Linked DNA regions of Homo sapiens: all the other regions are linked to region 1. The links come from fine-mapping of genetic effects on gene expression. A gene starts in region 1. Each other region holds a variant in brackets. All regions are shown on one strand. Distances are between the middles of the regions. Region 1 holds the start of PBX1 (PBX homeobox 1). Region 2 overlaps PBX1 (PBX homeobox 1). Region 3 overlaps PBX1 (PBX homeobox 1).

The links. PIP is the estimated chance that this variant, and not a neighbour inherited with it, causes the effect.
Region 2: its variant is fine-mapped to the expression of PBX1 in lung (TOPMed, PIP above 0.99).
Region 3: its variant is fine-mapped to the expression of PBX1 in whole blood (INTERVAL, PIP above 0.99).

What each region holds. Positions count from the first base shown.
Region 1 is chr1:164,556,131-164,561,419 of GRCh38, forward strand. It overlaps PBX1 (PBX homeobox 1), which reads left to right and starts at 3,054. Exons shown (of 9, transcript NM_002585.4): 1 at 3,054-3,883. The coding sequence starts at 3,693. RefSeq lists an enhancer at 2,636-3,135.
Region 2 is chr1:164,587,202-164,592,490 of GRCh38, forward strand. The region is part of intron 2 of PBX1 (PBX homeobox 1); the gene reads left to right. Among named protein-coding and RNA genes, the nearest start is that of PBX1, 31 kb to the left of the region's middle. RefSeq lists an enhancer at 3,432-4,399. The variant A/T (reference allele first, on the strand shown) is at 2,074.
Region 3 is chr1:164,758,812-164,764,100 of GRCh38, forward strand. All of the region lies in intron 2 of PBX1 (PBX homeobox 1), which reads left to right. Among named protein-coding and RNA genes, the nearest start is that of PBX1-AS1, 13 kb to the right of the region's middle. RefSeq lists enhancers at 477-978, 979-1,478. The variant G/A (reference allele first, on the strand shown) is at 2,875.

The DNA of each region.
Region 1 (5,289 bases):
TCTTTCCTTGCCAAATGATTTGGGTAAACAGCTAATTGTTGCCCAAAGTGTTGAGTAACCAGATAATTCTTCCCGAAACATGCTCTTCTGTTCCTATCTGTGAAAGAAAGAAACAACTTACCTCAGTGTATCCCTAATGTCCATCAAATAAAACACAAATGTTTCTGTTAAAAGTCTTTCCAGTTGGGCGCGGTGGCTCACTCCTTTAATCCCAGCACTTTGGGAGGCCAAGGCAGGTGGATCACGAGGTCAGGAGTTTGAGACCAGTCTGGCCAATACAGTGAAACCCCACCTCTACTAAAAAAAAAAAAAAAAAAAAAAAAAAAATTGCCAGGCCTGGTGGCGGGTGCCTGTAGTCCCAGCTACTTGGGAGGCTGAGGCAGGAGAATCACTTGAACCCAGAGGGTGGAGGTTGCAGTGAGCTGAGATCGCTCGACTGCACTCCAGCCTGAGTCACAGAGTGAGACTCTGTTTCAAAAAAAAAAGTCTTCCCAATCACACCTAATAACATTTCCATTGTGCCTGAAGAGATAGCCTGTACTTCCGTCAAGTTCATTAACCTAGCCCTCCAGATCCAGTTCATCCTTTAGATCCACCGCGAAGCCTTCTATTCACTCGAACTGGTTACTCCCTTCTCTCATCTCTTATAGGATGTCTAAGGGCTTGTTATCACTTCTATAGCATTTATTATGTATTGAAATATATCTGGGCAACACTCTAGAGTAATGGTTAAAAGCATAGCTATCGGGGTAAGACAGTTGCAATGATTAAATTAACAAAACACCTTGAATATAATACTTAATTATAGTATGGAGTCAATAAATATTACCTATTTTTAGTATCATTGTGTATACACATCTTATTTCCCTACTAAAATGTTCCTAGATGACAATGATCTTCTGGAATTGATGGTACCTTTTCCAGTACTTTGCCTAGAAAGATTTTATTAGGTTTGCAATTAGAATTAATTACTCACAAACTGATTTCTTATAGACTCTAGGTTGACTTCTTTTCATGCTTTAAAATGTGGTAACTTCGTCTCTGTAAGGGATATGCTAACTCTCAATCACTGTGATTGATATGTGATTTGAGTATATAGTTTTGTGCTCAACTTTTGATTAGTGTTAATTTTTAAAAAAACAGTTTAAAAATCAGGATATGTATGTGAATAAAACAATTGTTATTAAGTAATATAACATCATAATTACAATTAATACTCTGTATTGCATGCCCTCATACCAATAAGTGCCAAGTAGCTTGCTAAAAACTGCTTTGAAATGCTTGCATCAGTGCTCCTTATCTTGCCAAACTTGTTTTGCGTAATGATTGGTGAGAAGAATAACATTTTATTTGAGGATCTCGAAGCACCTGGCAAGGCTGCTTTCCATTTTGCAGATTGGTTACACTGCGCTTGCAGATTGGTTACACTGCGCTTTGCATTTCCTTTGCTATACTGCCATCCAGGAAGAGGGCTGGCTACACAATAGAATATTTTATATTACAAAATATTCTGGACATTTCCTAAGTAATTGGCCTGCTATTTTATCTTATATTCATTGTGACTGTGTACACAGTCAGATTTTTCCCTCTCACTTTGCCCAATGAAAAGATTGGAAGCAAATTTGTGTCTGTCTGGAGCTATGATACTGGACCTTAGTTATGACTTTTGTTGGCTTTTTTCTTGATCCCATTGTATTTATTTTTTATTTTTTCCTACCCATTTTCAATTGGAGTTGTCTTGTTGGAATATGTACCCTTTTAAGCACCTCAAGTTTCCTTTCAAACTGGACAGGCAATAGACACATAACTAATTTTTAACACTATTCACACATTTCTGTTAGACTGAAGCAGATTGTGCAGTGGAAATACTAGGCCTTTGGAGGGAGTCACACTTGGGTTTAAATTCCAGCTTTGACACTTAATAACTGTGGACCTTGGACAAATTATTTAACCTTTCTGAGTTCCCTCTCTGTAAAATGGAAATAATAATCCATAACTCACAAAGATGTCTTGGGGATTAAATAAAATAACTCATGCAAATTACTTGGTGCATAGTAGGCATTCAATAAATGTCAGTTCACTTCTCTTCCCAGTTAATAATGCTTATTAGACTATATTAAAAACTAGAACTAGACTGTGATAATGCATTTCTTTATTAGGTATTTAAGCCAAATAACTAATTTCCCCCGGGGGAAGAGAGAGAAATGTTGAATTAGTTTCATTTGGTGAACTTATTTATTAATCTTTCTTTTTCTTGAGCATTTTTCAGTTTCATAGTCCATAATTTAGTTTTCATGCAGCAAAAATGACACAGTTTGGTATTCTTTTCACCTTTACTGTGCTAGAATTGTTTTTTTAAATGTATCTATTATTACATCTGCCACTTATTAGAGATCTTTATTAATTATATTAACAGCTCGATTGTGTTTCATAACTACGTCGTGCTGACAAACTTGTGCTCTCAGCAGTTTCCCTGAGGTCTAAGCATTTAAAAGAATCAAGTTTTAAATGACAATGCCACAGCAAAAGAAAAGCAGGGGTGGGCGGGAAGACGCACACCGTCTGTGTTCTTTCGTGTTAATTTTATATGTTTGCATTTAAGTGGAGCCACATTTTCCTCAAGGACGCAACCTAAGTAAGGCGAGCAGGGAAAGTGGAAACTAAGTGAGCTGGAACTACAGTACCATTGCACCTTTAAGGACTGGAGACTTGCTATTAGCTCGGCCTCCTTCCCGGCCCACCTCTGAACTCTGATTGACAGGGCGCCGGGCGAGGAGGAGCTGAAGGAGGCTGGAGAGGAGGCGCCGTGAGGAAAGTAGGGGAGGAGGGGGCCGGTCCTTTATCTGGTGGCCAATCAGGGAAGCGGGGAGGAGCTCCAGGCGCCCTCCTCCCTCCTCCTCTCCCCAGCCTCCCGGCTTCCCCGCCCCCTCCCCTTCCCTTTGCCCCCTCCCCTCTCCTCCTTCTCGTCCTCCTCCTCCTTCTTCTCCTCCTCCTCCTCCTCCTCTCAGGCTGTGGTTTTTCTGTATATGTTTCTGGAGTCCTGAGCCTGAGCTAAACAAAAGCAGGAGGCTGACGGGGCTGCTGGAGTTTGCAGAGACACGGAGGAGGAGAGAGCCTGTGCTTTGCCTGCCGCCGCGGCTGGGGGAGATCTGGCTTTTGCAACAGCCCACCCCCTTTGAGATCACTCTGGCCCGGAGTGGGGGTGGGGGGCAGCGGGGGGTGGGGGGGGAAAGTTTGCATTGCAATCCCCCTGCCTTCCTCTCCTTTCTCCCGATCAATGCATATTTGCAAAAGGATTAAGCCACAGATTTAAGCGCCGGGAGCCCATTTCTGCCTTGCAAAGGAGACCGGACTGAAAAACCTAAAGCCAGCTCTGATTTCTTTTCGCCAAGTGGGAAGGTGGTTTATTTTTCTTGCTTTTTGGAGTCAACACCCTTCCCCACCAGCCCTTATCCCCACCCTCACCCCGCAACCCCTTCACGCCCCCTCCCCCTCCCCCTCCTCATCCTCCCACCATCCTCTAAAGAGGCAAAGGGATTTTTTTTTTCTTTTGGTCTTCTTTTTTCCCCCTTCCCTGTTTATCCTGAAAAGGATTTGAAGACAAGCTTGAAGGATAAAAAGCCTTGGTGCTTCCCAGGAGCCGAGCCGAGGAGCAGAAGAGGAAGAGCCGGGGGCTGCCGTAGCCTTTGGAGATGGACGAGCAGCCCAGGCTGATGCATTCCCATGCTGGGGTCGGGATGGCCGGACACCCCGGCCTGTCCCAGCACTTGCAGGATGGGGCCGGAGGGACCGAGGGGGAGGGCGGGAGGAAGCAGGACATTGGAGACATTTTACAGCAAATTATGACCATCACAGACCAGAGTTTGGATGAGGCGCAGGCCAGGTGAGATGGAGGCTTTTCTTTTCCTTTCTTGGGGTTTTTTGTTTTTCTTCCTCTTGCAGGGGGAAACAATGGGAACCGAATCACCACAGCGCTTTTTTTGAAAAATGTTATTTCTTTTCTCATTTTGACAAGCAACTACATGGCGGAGGAGTAAAATTTGAAGGAGCGTTGTTATCGAAAGTGTAATCGCCCATGCCGAGATGTGGCTGTGTACATATTTGTGTGTGTGTGTGTGAATATAGGGGTATTCATTTATATCCACACAAACACACAGGCATGCCGAAAATACTGCCAACTGATCCAAAAGCGGCCCTCGGCACTTTTTACTGCTTTAAAAAAGTATCAGAGAAAGCAGAATTGTCAAGTTTTGAACAGCATTCCATGCCTTCTTGTTGAGGGGACTCTGTAACATTACGAAATAAAATGTCCCAAGAACACTTTATTTGCAAATTTAGTTGACTCCTTACCTAATTCAGCGAGTTTGATTTTCTTTCTTGACTCTCCCGTCCAAAATTAATTTTTATCTTTTCTCCTTTCTTCCCCCCCTACCCAAAATACAAAACAACAAAAAAGCAGGGTATTTCTTTGTCAGTACTTGTCAGCTATCCAGAAAATATTTTGCATTCACTTAATTTTGTTTTTTTAAAAAGTTGATGAAAAGGTGATTTTGTTTTTAGGCATATTTGTTAGTTTTAAGAGACTCAGATTTTTAGTTTAACTTTATTGTCTCCTAATTTCAGCCGGTTTACTAACCTTCCGTGACACAGACAGCTATGTAGGGTCCTTTAAAAAGGGGTGGGGGGACAAAAATCAAGCATGCTCTTTTCCCCCATGCTTCTTTCAGGACCACTTAGAAATGAAAGCATTTATGAATTTTATATATTTCAGTACTATAGGACATGAAGGTCTTCATTAAGGAAACATAATAAACTGTGTAGCCTCTCAAGTTAATCCACTGCCAGGTATATGGTTCTCTACTTCAGGATTTTACAGTAAATTCTCTTTTAAAGTAAAACATAGACTAAGTGACAACCCGCTAACAGCTTGCCCAAGGCCGAACTCAAAAGGAAGAATTTTAAAAATCTAATGACCACATATGTCTGTACAATTACCCAGCTTTGTTATATCTCCGAAGTAGCGTTTTTCTCTTTGAAAACCCTGTAAACAAATATACGCAACTCCTATACTTCAGATGACTTGGTTATATGGAGAAGACATCATTATGTGTATTTCTGTCTACGTGAAATAAGAATCTGAGTTGAGAAAATGAGAGGAAGCAGTTAAAAACATAGATGTTATGAATTATACTCAATTTTAGCTGCAAGCACATGCAACATGTAAACTCAAAAGTACTAAGGTTTACGGGTGTTTGAAAACTTGGAAATGTTGAAAGACTCAAAGTATCC
Region 2 (5,289 bases), 31 kb after region 1:
TGTGTTCCTAAAAAGTGTATGGGTGTGATTTTGGTAATCCTTATCCTAAACTTAAGTCCATTCCTTAGTTTCATGGAAGCAATGTATATGACAGAAGGAACACCAGAGGGGAGTGTTGTGGAGAGTGTTGTGGTGACTTGGTAAGTTGCTTACACATTGGGGGTCTTGGCTGTCTCATCTCTAAGTGAAGGGGTTAGATATGAATGATTAATAAGATCCCTTTCAGGTCTATGCTTCTAGCACTCCCTTTTGTCGGGTGAGGAGCCCTTTTTGTATTGTGTATACTCACCCAGCACTTTATCTGCCTCTTTGTTGTTAGCTGATGATCTTTGTGTGTCTGATTTTTTTTTTTAAGAGTAAGGATGTCATGCACTCTTATTCAAAGTGTAGAGTTTATTCTCCCATTCATAGGAATGCAAAATGAGAAGTTTTAAATACACGGATTCACTTCCTAACCCAGTTTCTCAGAAGATTAATGAATAGTCATCCTGTTGACCCATCTGCTTCTCTTCTTCACATCGTTTTGTGCGGATGAGGCACACACAGACACAGAGTTCTCACTTGCAGCAGTCCGGCACATACAGCCTCACACGCGCCACACCAGGGGGTGTCCCCAGGAGAGGTAGAACAGGTGCCAGATGTTGCAGCAGTACACTCCTCCCTGATCCTCCTTCTCATCCCCCACCCCTTTTCTGAATCTCCTGCACAGTCACTGAAGTCCCATTTTTATATGCAAGAAGAGAAGAGAAAGAGCCCTAGGATGCAAGGATGCCTTGTCACCTCTCATCTTCTGTGCTGGGATAGACACCTGATCTTTTTGGAAGTGAAATCCAGAGTCTGGGGCAAAGACCAAAGGACAGAGGCCAAACCAAAAGTGACTGCATGGTTGCATGCGGGCCCCAAATGATTGAATGAAGCAAGGATACCCATCGCAGGGAGCTGAAAAACCTCACATCCAGATGCGGTCAGAGAGGTTCACAGAATGAAAGGCAGTCTGATGAGTGAGTGAGATACACCCGCCTGTAGAGCACAATAGAAAAATCAATAGTAAGGGGAGGTGAAAGAGTTTCAGCTGGGTTTTATTGAGCACAAAGAAGACAAACTGGCTTTTGCTGTGACTTCAACTGTATGTTAATAGTGCTTTTTAAAAACTACAGTACAGGATTTGGGGAAAAAAAATCACACGGTAAAAGTTGCCAGCCAGTATATGTAAGTGCACACACACACAGAGATGAGGAAAAAGAGAAAAGAGAAATACACTCCGGACTAAGCTTTTTTTTTTTTTTTTTTTTTTTTTTTAGTTTCGAAGCATATGGTGAAGTGTGCTATAATTTTATATGCATATATATTCTTTATTCTGGACTTCCAGAAAGCAATGAGTTTCATCTGTTTTTTTCCCCACCTCTGGTTCCTTCTTCCTTTCCCTTGCTCTCTACAAGTCTGCTGTGGCTTTATTAGGAATTCCCTTTGGTTTAGGGGGAAAAAAAATAAGAGGGAGAGAGAGAGAGGCTGGAGGGGGAAGAAACAAAACTAGCTCTTGGCTGGCCGCCCACAGCATGGGCCCAACAGCCTTGTTTGAGCGCGTTGCCCCGGCCTTCTGTTTTCTTAAGCTCAGCCCCCTTTATCCCTCCGCCCCCACCATGCCCTCCTTTTCCTAACTGGGCTGAGGGAGGCTGTTTCTACCCTCCTAACCCTCTTTTTTCCTTTCTGTTGTTTAAAGAGAATCTTTCTCTCTTTTTTGAGGCTCCAGCGGCGAGAACAGCAGCGGATTTCTCCTTGCCGGCCTCTCCCCTCCTCCCCAGCCCCCTCCCCGATGAAGGGTTCATCCAAAGTTCGAATCCAGACTCTGAACAAAGTGGCGCAGACCTTTTCCTGACTCCTCACCCTTTGTCCTCATCACTCAGTGACAGACAGGAATCAAATGCTGAGGACCCAGGCGGGAGAGGGGCAGTGGGGGAGGGAGGGGAGAGGAGAAAAGTTCCCATTAACTCGCCGGGCCCTTAACAACCACTGGAAGGAGGAGGGGGGCGCGGCTGAGAAAGGATTTTTGTTTAAGTTTCTGCAGGCACACAC[A/T]CAGCATTCCCAAGTTGTTTGCAGATGGTTTCATCTGGTTTCTGTTTGAGGGGAAGAGAGTATGGGATGATCAGTAAGGAGAGGGGGCGGGGAGAGGGAAGAGTCTTCTCTTGACCAGAAAATGATACCTGTGGTGTCTTTTCCTGAAACTGAAAACATTAAAGCGTTCTGATCCCAGAGAAAACAAATTCTCTGGGATATAAGGGTTCACCTTTTGGAGGTGGATTACACTTTTCAGGACACCAGAGAACCATAGAGCAAATTACTTCTTCCAGAGTGCTAAATGATCCCCTGGTGCCCTGGAAAGAGACCGTTTACCTCCAAAAGGTGAGTTGTTTATTGCCAGAGAGTAGAATATTGGCTGTAATGCCTGCTCATCCATCCTTCTCCATCCCTGCGAGGTATTTAGGGTGGAGGAGATATTATCCACCTGTCACCATGGGGAAGGAGACTGACAAATACTTTTCTGATTCCTGTTCCTAAGATTGAATTGCTGGGGAGGAAGGTGAAGTGACTTTTCCAAGGTCTTATAGTGATCCAGTGATTGAAGTTGAATTAGATTTCTGTTCCTGTTGTGGTGCTCTTGTTTGTCAGAGAAAAATAAATATCTTAATGCTCACACGGAGCCTCCCGTAAAAAGGCTGATAAGAAAGGCCAGGTGCGGTGGCTCATGTCTTTCATCCCAACATTTTGGGAGGCTGAGGTGAGACATGGCTTGAGCCTAGGATTTCAAGACCAGCCTGGGCAACATAGTGAGATCCTGTTTCTACAAATAGTAATAATAATAAGACATCCAGGTGTGGTGGCACATGCCTCTAGTCCCAGCTACTCGGGAGGCTGAGGTGGGAAGATTGCTGAGCCTGGGAGGTCAAGGCTGCAGTGAGCCGTGATCGTGCTGCTGTGCTCCAGCCTGGGCAACAGAGCGAGACCCTGTGTTGAAAAAAAAAAAAGCTGGGGGTCAGGGAGCAGATAGAAGAAATACCTTGGCCAGCGCAACTGGAAAGGGAGGAGCCAAAAGGGGAACACTTTCTTGATTGTCCCAGCCTCATTAGGAGCTACCACAGGGCTCTCCTGCATGCTCCTTGTTTTCTTTGTGCTCTGGACTTGCTCACTTGCACTGCTTGCTTCTTCCCAATCGCCGCCGCCCCCCTGTGCTTCAGGTAAACAAGCTGCTCTGTGGGAAGTGAATAATGGGGCCTAAACTGACGAGGAGGAAGTTAAGTTGAGAGGTGCCGTTTTTGGTGAGCCTTAATGAGGAGGACAACAGTGTGAAATCTTACTTGGCATTGTGACCAGGAGATCTATTGCCTTTTCCTCCCCTAAATCTTCAGAATCATAGTGGACTATATATGACTCCCAAAAGTGTATGCTTTTACCTAGCCCTTGGAAGCTTGGATGGTTAGAGCAATTGGGAGTTTAGTCTGTTGGGGTAAACAGGGCATTGATCTAAGGATTTGTTAAACTGTAAACCAAATAAAGAGCAAAGTCTGCTCTACAGGGATGTTGAAGATTCAGGATATTAAAAAAAAAATCTCTGACTGCATGATTACCCTTCCAGACATTTATTGAGGTTTTTGTTTGTTTGTTTGAGACAAGATCTTACTCTGTCACCCAGGCTGGAGGGCAGTGGTGCGATCTCGGCTCACTGCAACCTCCGCTTCCTGGGCTCAAGTGATTCTCCTTCTTCAGCCTCGTGAGTAGCTGGGACTACAGGCGTGTGCCACCACACTTGGCTAATTTTTTTTTTTTTTTTTTTGAGATGGAGTCTTGCTCTGTTGCCAGGCTGGAGTGCAGTGACATGATCTTGGCTCACTGCATCCTCTGCCTCCCAGGTTCAAGCGATTCTCCTGCCTCAGCCTCCCAAGTAGCTGGGACTACAGGCATGTGTCACCATGCCCAGCTAATTTTTGTATTTTTCGTAGAGACGGGGTTTCACCATGTTGGCCAGGATGGTCTGGAACTCCTGGCCTCAAGTGATCTGCCTGCCTCAGCTTCCCAAAGTGCTGGGATTACAGGCGTCAGCCACCGCTCCTGGCCCCCAGTTAAATATTTCTGGAAAAGAGTTCTGTTCACAAAAAATTTTGGAATCAAGGGAAAACCTTATTAATTAAGATCTTTGATAATGTGGATTCTAAATAATTTCGGGCTAAGTTGAATGAAAACTTACCTTTTCACCCATGAAAAAAGGAGCTCTGTAACTATATTAGTAGCACAAACGGGTTCATGTGAATGTTTACCCTGCTTAAGAGAGTAAACTTTTCAGAGTTAGCAGCAGCATTTGCATACAATAAATGTTCTAATTACTAATGATCCTTGCCAATTAATTAAAAGTATGTCTGTCATGGCGCTGCTTTCTTGGCAGTGCTTTTATTGATGATGAGCTTGTGTGCATATTAAATAATACAGTGACATTTCTTTTTAATGTTTCCTAACCCAGGCTTTGTATGGCAGAACATTCTGTTAGCAGACTTGTGCAGGTTTTCCTATCCTACAAGTAGAGAAATGGAGAGATCCATGCCCTACCCTGAGCCTGAGAGTAACTTGGTGATAGTGTCTGCATTCTAACCCAGTGCTCCTGTATTTCCTTGGATTCTTGTTTCTTGTGAGCCTGTAAAGGCATTTGCAAAGTTGGGGCCTTCTGTGAACAGGGGTGCTGTGGCACTGCAGTTCATTGCAGTCTAGACTTTCCACCTCCCCTGTGGCACTTTTGGCAAGTTGACAGGTATAATTGATGAGTTATTCTAAGAATGTGATTCCTGAGTAACTCTAGAGTGGAGTGACTGTGTTTCTGAGTAGTTAATGTGGCTGGGGGGAAAGGCAGATGAAGGGGATGGGGGTTGGGAAGCTGGAGGGAGGTGGGGAGGAGGGCCTTTGTTCAAATCAAGTTGTGTTCAAGTCTGTGGTTTTAAGAGAGAGCAACAGCGATTCTTTCCTAGCATATGAAATCTTCACAGGGCTCATAGTTTGAGTGTGAGAGTCTGGATGAGGTTCATCCCAGTATATGTCCTAGGAAAGGAAATAGAAACACTTAGCTTTGACGTGTAAACCTCCATGCCAACCATTTTGGTTGAGTTTAAGGGAAATCACAAAGCAGCTTCTATTGCTGCAAATTTGCCTAGTAGCCCAACTTTCCAAAGTTAAGATCATCCCTGGCAGGCCTTTAATTCTCAAGGGTCTGCAAAGTTGATGGTCTGTTGAGAAAGGAAAGGAGAAGTT
Region 3 (5,289 bases), 200 kb after region 1:
TGCCTGTTGTGCTCACCTAGCATCGTGTCTGGCACATAGTAGGTACTCACTAAATACTTGCTGAATTACTAAATGCATGGAAGTTCCAGGATCCAGTGGGAGTGATAAAGGTAAGGGAAAATTAAGGCAAGCAAAGGCAGGAAAAACAAATCTCTGCTTAAAGGAATCAAGAGACTGGCTACCCTTGGAGATAGTAACTGTAAAGGGTTTGGCTGGGGCTTCTGTGTGCTGCTCATAATACTCTCTTGATCCCACTTCTGGAGACTGGGCTGCATGCACTATACAAAAATTCACTGTACAGCTGTAATGTATGTATTTCTACTTAATATAGTTTATCCTACTATCTAAAAAAATATGCCTTTAAAGGATAGTGTCGGTTCTCAAGTACCTTAACAATCTTTTTGCAGGTGAGGGTGGAAGGTGGGTGAAGAAACCAATATACAGGCAACGATTAGGATCATTATTTGGCTCAACCCCCATTCCAGTAACATGCTGTGACTGCAGGGGAAAGAATGGCTCATTCCAAGCTCTGCCCTTATGTATGCCATTAACATAGATTCCCAGGGGGTGGGTCACCTTCTGAGTGGAGGCCCCTAAATCTAATGCCCAAGGAAGCCAAGACTCCTTGCACCCCGGGTGACACAGAATCCTGGGTGGCTGGTTCAGGAGCTTCATGTGCTAGCTCCCATTTATGATTTCTTTTTTCTTTTTTTAAAGAAAGAAACATAAGGAAAACATTTGCTTTGACATTGAATCCACCCCTACATGTAACAGTAATTGCAGGGCCTAGAGGGGGAAAGAAAGTATCATTCCAATTTGGGGCCAACCAGCCTTGACAATATTGTGTTAAACCTTCTGAAGTGGTGAAGCCAAGCTGCAGCGAGGCAACCCTGGCACAGGTGGACAATCGGGGACATGGAGAGCTGGAACTGGGAGACACTTCTGGAGTCAGGACACGTAAGGAGTACAAAATTACTCTTTGGGGCACTCTCAGGGAAGACCTGTGCCTCCAGGCCTGGCCCTTGGTTATGGCCTGTGCTCCTGACTCCTTAGGAGGTTTTGGCCATGAGCTAATCAGATGCCCAGTTCACACAGTAAGATATGACTGCTTGACCTCCACATGGAGCCCGACTAGATCCCCCTAAAAACCACAGTTGTAAAGCTCTGTAGAGGTAGTGGCCTCTTCAAAGTCCCCAAGCACGCAGCCACACGTGCTTTCTCCTCCAGTCTCCGTGTGTCTGTAAAAGTTCAAATACTGAGTCAAGTTTATTGTTTCTATCTCGTTTATTTTAAGTATAGTTTTACACTTTATTATGTGCAATGACATCTTAAATGGAGCCTGTCACTCCGTCTTGACTACTGCTCGGGGCTGGAGCCACTTACCATGTCACACATTCAGCAGCCCTGATTAACCGAATCAGAATGAGCAGCTCCATCTCCACCCTCTCCAAAATAGTGCCCCTTATTTATATGAAGCAAAATATGAGAACAACAGGATCCTGTATCTAAAGTGGGAAGGTTTCCAAGTTGAGGAAGTTTGGGATGGCATTTCCCTCCCTTCCTCCCTCCCACCCTTCTTTGCTCCCTCCTTTCCTCCTTCCATCCCTCCTCCCTCCCTCCCTCCCTTCCCTTCCTTCCTCCTTCTCTCCTTCTTTCCCTCCTTCCTTCCTTCGGATTTTTTAAAACATATTTTGTTATATATTCACTCTCTTTAAGAATAACACTTTGTTTGGTTAACTCCTGCCCCCCAAAACAACAACAATAAAAAACAAAACAAAATTTTACAACTTTCTTTTCTTCTTCTCTCGTCTGTGGTTGCAAGTCAGTTTTTGTAGCCCTGTCATTATGTGAGGTGGCCTAGAGTAATTTGAATATTTCATTCTCCCGGCTGCTAATGCAGCATGCGTTACAGATGGTACTTGCTTCATCCTTCTGGACCTGGTTCAATTATAAATGAAAGTAGGGAGCTGAGATTTGTCTTTTTGTCTCTGCTTAGTTGGAATAACACAATAAAGCTTGATGGGTAAGAATTTCTCAAACTGCCTCTTTTTCACCTCGGACATTTCCCAATTAGATTGCTCCTTAGAGTACTTGGTTTGCACTCACGTTTGGAGCCAAATGTATAATCATTGTTGTTATTTTTGGATACTTTCTTTCCTCTCACTTGGAATAAGGCTGTATTCTAAAAGTATAAGCAACCTCTGTCTGCCTGCCCCCACCCATCTTTTTCTTTTTGGTGTCTATTTCTCATCAATTCTTAGCAGTGACTGCATGATTTATTCAAGAATCTTGAGTAAAACCACTTCCCTCCTCCATACCCTTAAAAGTACTGTCCCCTCACATCACACTACTTAGGGACACATTGGTGGTCAGGGAAAAGGATTTTTCCTCACAGTAAGATGTGTCTGCTCAGCTCACTAAATCAATATATAAAAATAGAACACACATGTAGAGCAAATTATGCAAATTTATGAGTATAATCTTACATGCACATATTTATTAGACACTAGTAGTATTTTAAATGTGTTTGTGTGGAGGAGGGTGTGTGTACACACATGCCAAAAGGCTTTGGGTTTGGTATGTTTTTGGACATTCTAAAAAATAAACATTAAACATCGTCTTTCATTGGGACATTATTCTTTTTTTTTTTTGAGACGGAGTTTCGCTCTGTCGCCCAGGCTGGAGTGCAGTGGCGCGATCTCGACTCACTGCAAGCTCCGCCTCCCAGGTTCACGCCATTCTCCTGCCTCAGCCTCCCGTGTAGCTGGGACTACAGGTGCGCGCCACCATGCCCGGCTAATTTTTGTATTTTTAGTAGAGACGGGGTTTCACCGTGTTAGCCAGGATGGTCTCGATCTCCTGACCTCATGATCC[G/A]CCCGTCTCGGCCTCCCAAAGTGCTGGGATTACAGGCGTGAGCCACCGCGCCCGGCCCATTGGGACATTATTCTTATGGTCATTTTAGCAAATTGTAAAGCTTGCTATTTAGTTCAGGCTATACCTTTATTTGGATCAGTGTGAGGGATTTTTTTCCTTCAACCTCAAATTTATGATCACTAAGTGTTGGGCAAATACAGTACTATAGATACTCTTAGAAGGGTGACTAATTCAAATATCTACCAGTAATGTCAAAGAAGGGGGGATGAACCAACTATATTCTCTAAGATTAATTGATATTGTATTAGATTACATGGGCGCTCCAAGAAGATCAATATATATATTTTTTAATTTCACTTTGTTCCTCACGTACTGTTGGAAACCAGCTTTGCAGTGTGACACCTGTGGGCTCAACATTGTTTCACCCTTATTTTGATGACCTGCCCTTGTAAAGTTAAATAGAATATAAATTGATAGTATCTCCTAGCCTCCCATGGTTCTATAAGTTTAAGTCATTAAGATGAAGAATAAAGTGTCCTACAGAGAAATTGCCAGCTTAAAAGACAAAGTGTTGGAATGTTACAGTAAGAGCTCTGATGCCCTAGGTCAATACAGGTTGGCAGAAGCAGCATAGTTTAGGGAACTCTGTTCTTTTCCGATGCAATTTGCAACAGTCCTCAGCCCAGCATCTCACTTGTTTTTCCTACTATGTTAAATGTGATCCTACCTACCCTTAGAGATAACAGTGAAAATTAACCTAAAACATAGAGCCAAGTCTTTCAGCAATTTGACATACTTTAAAAAATATAAAGTGTGCTTCATTTTCATATCAGCTTATGATAACCCACCTTCTGGAACCAACCTGGTAATTAGTTATCTGGGTCTGCAGTGTGCAGTAGGTCCATTCCTCCATGTGTCTCTGTCTATCTTGATTTCTGGCTCAGCTTCTGATATCTAAATGATATTCGTTGAGCAATTTGGAACCTAAATGGAGTTAGAAATGCTATTATTCCATATTTTTCAAGTAGTTAAAAGAACATCTTTGTAGCAAATTTTCTAGGAACACAACAATTAGAAATGTTTAATAACCTGTGGTCACTTTCTTACAATTAATTATCTTGAACTCATTTTCTGCTAATATCAAATCTTGCCAGAATAATGAAATTGGAGTTCTTATTTTCAGCTAGTTTTCATTTGTCAATCATTGACCTACTTTTCTTTGGAAATTTGTAATAAACTGAAAAATAATAGCAGCTGTACTAATATTGGTATAATAATTTCCAGTGTACCAAGTACTTTTCATGTATATTATCTCGATTTTGATATCATGATAATTCTAAAGGGATAGCTTTTATTTTTCTTAGTTTACAAATGTGAAAACAAACCCAGAGAGGTTAAACAGTCAAAATCACAATTCAAGTCCAATGTGAATGTATTAGGATTAGGTTCAAATGTGAGTAGCTGAAACCACATCCACCCCCTTTCAAAACATAGGAAGTAAGATATAAGCAGTTCAGGGCTGGCAGAGTGGCTCCATAGACCACAAAAAACTTAGGCTCCTTCCTGAGTTTTCACTCAGTCTTCCCTAAAAGGTGATCCTGTGTCATCCTCGTGATCTAAGTTGACTGCTAGAGCTCCAGCCATTCCATCTGCATTCCAGGCATCAGAATGGAGGAAGGGGCAGAGAATAACTGTAGACTTATTCCTTTTAAAAAAGACTTTCTAGCATAATACTTGTACTACCACTTGTATCCCATCAGTTAGGACTTAGTATTACGACTACATTTAGTTACAAGGGAGTCTTGGACATGTAGCTGGGTAAAAATGTTCCAGCTCTTAGAAACGGGGCAAGTTTCTGAAATGTCACTGCACTTGGGTTTAGCTACAGCCTACAGATTTTCCCTAACCAAGAAAGATAGACCGAGGAGTCATTTTAATTGTCTAGATCTGATTTGGAACATAGGTGTCATGTTATACTAGAGAATCTGGCTGAGGGCAAAGGCAAATCTTGATCGTATTAATAAATGTTTGCTGTATTGGGTGTAATTGTACACATTTGCAGCAAGGCACATCCAAAGAGGAGGTGATGTACTTCCCAAGCAACAGCAACACTGAAAAGGGACTGACTCCAATCATGCCATGGTGAGCAATCTGTGGAGACAAGAGTGACCACAAACTCTGAAATAAATTCATAAAGATTAATCTGTGTGCTCCAGGCTACTAAATTCACATTCCCCCTTGGTGTTACTTCCTACTTAAACTTTAATAGAATGGTTTATAGGATTGTGGAGATTTATAGGATCAATTCCTTGGTTATTTGGTGGCCAGTGGTCAGGGAACCTAAATGCCGTATATGACCTCAGTAGATAGGGCTTCTTACTGTCAAAACATTATTTCTGGAGGAAAAAAGAATCC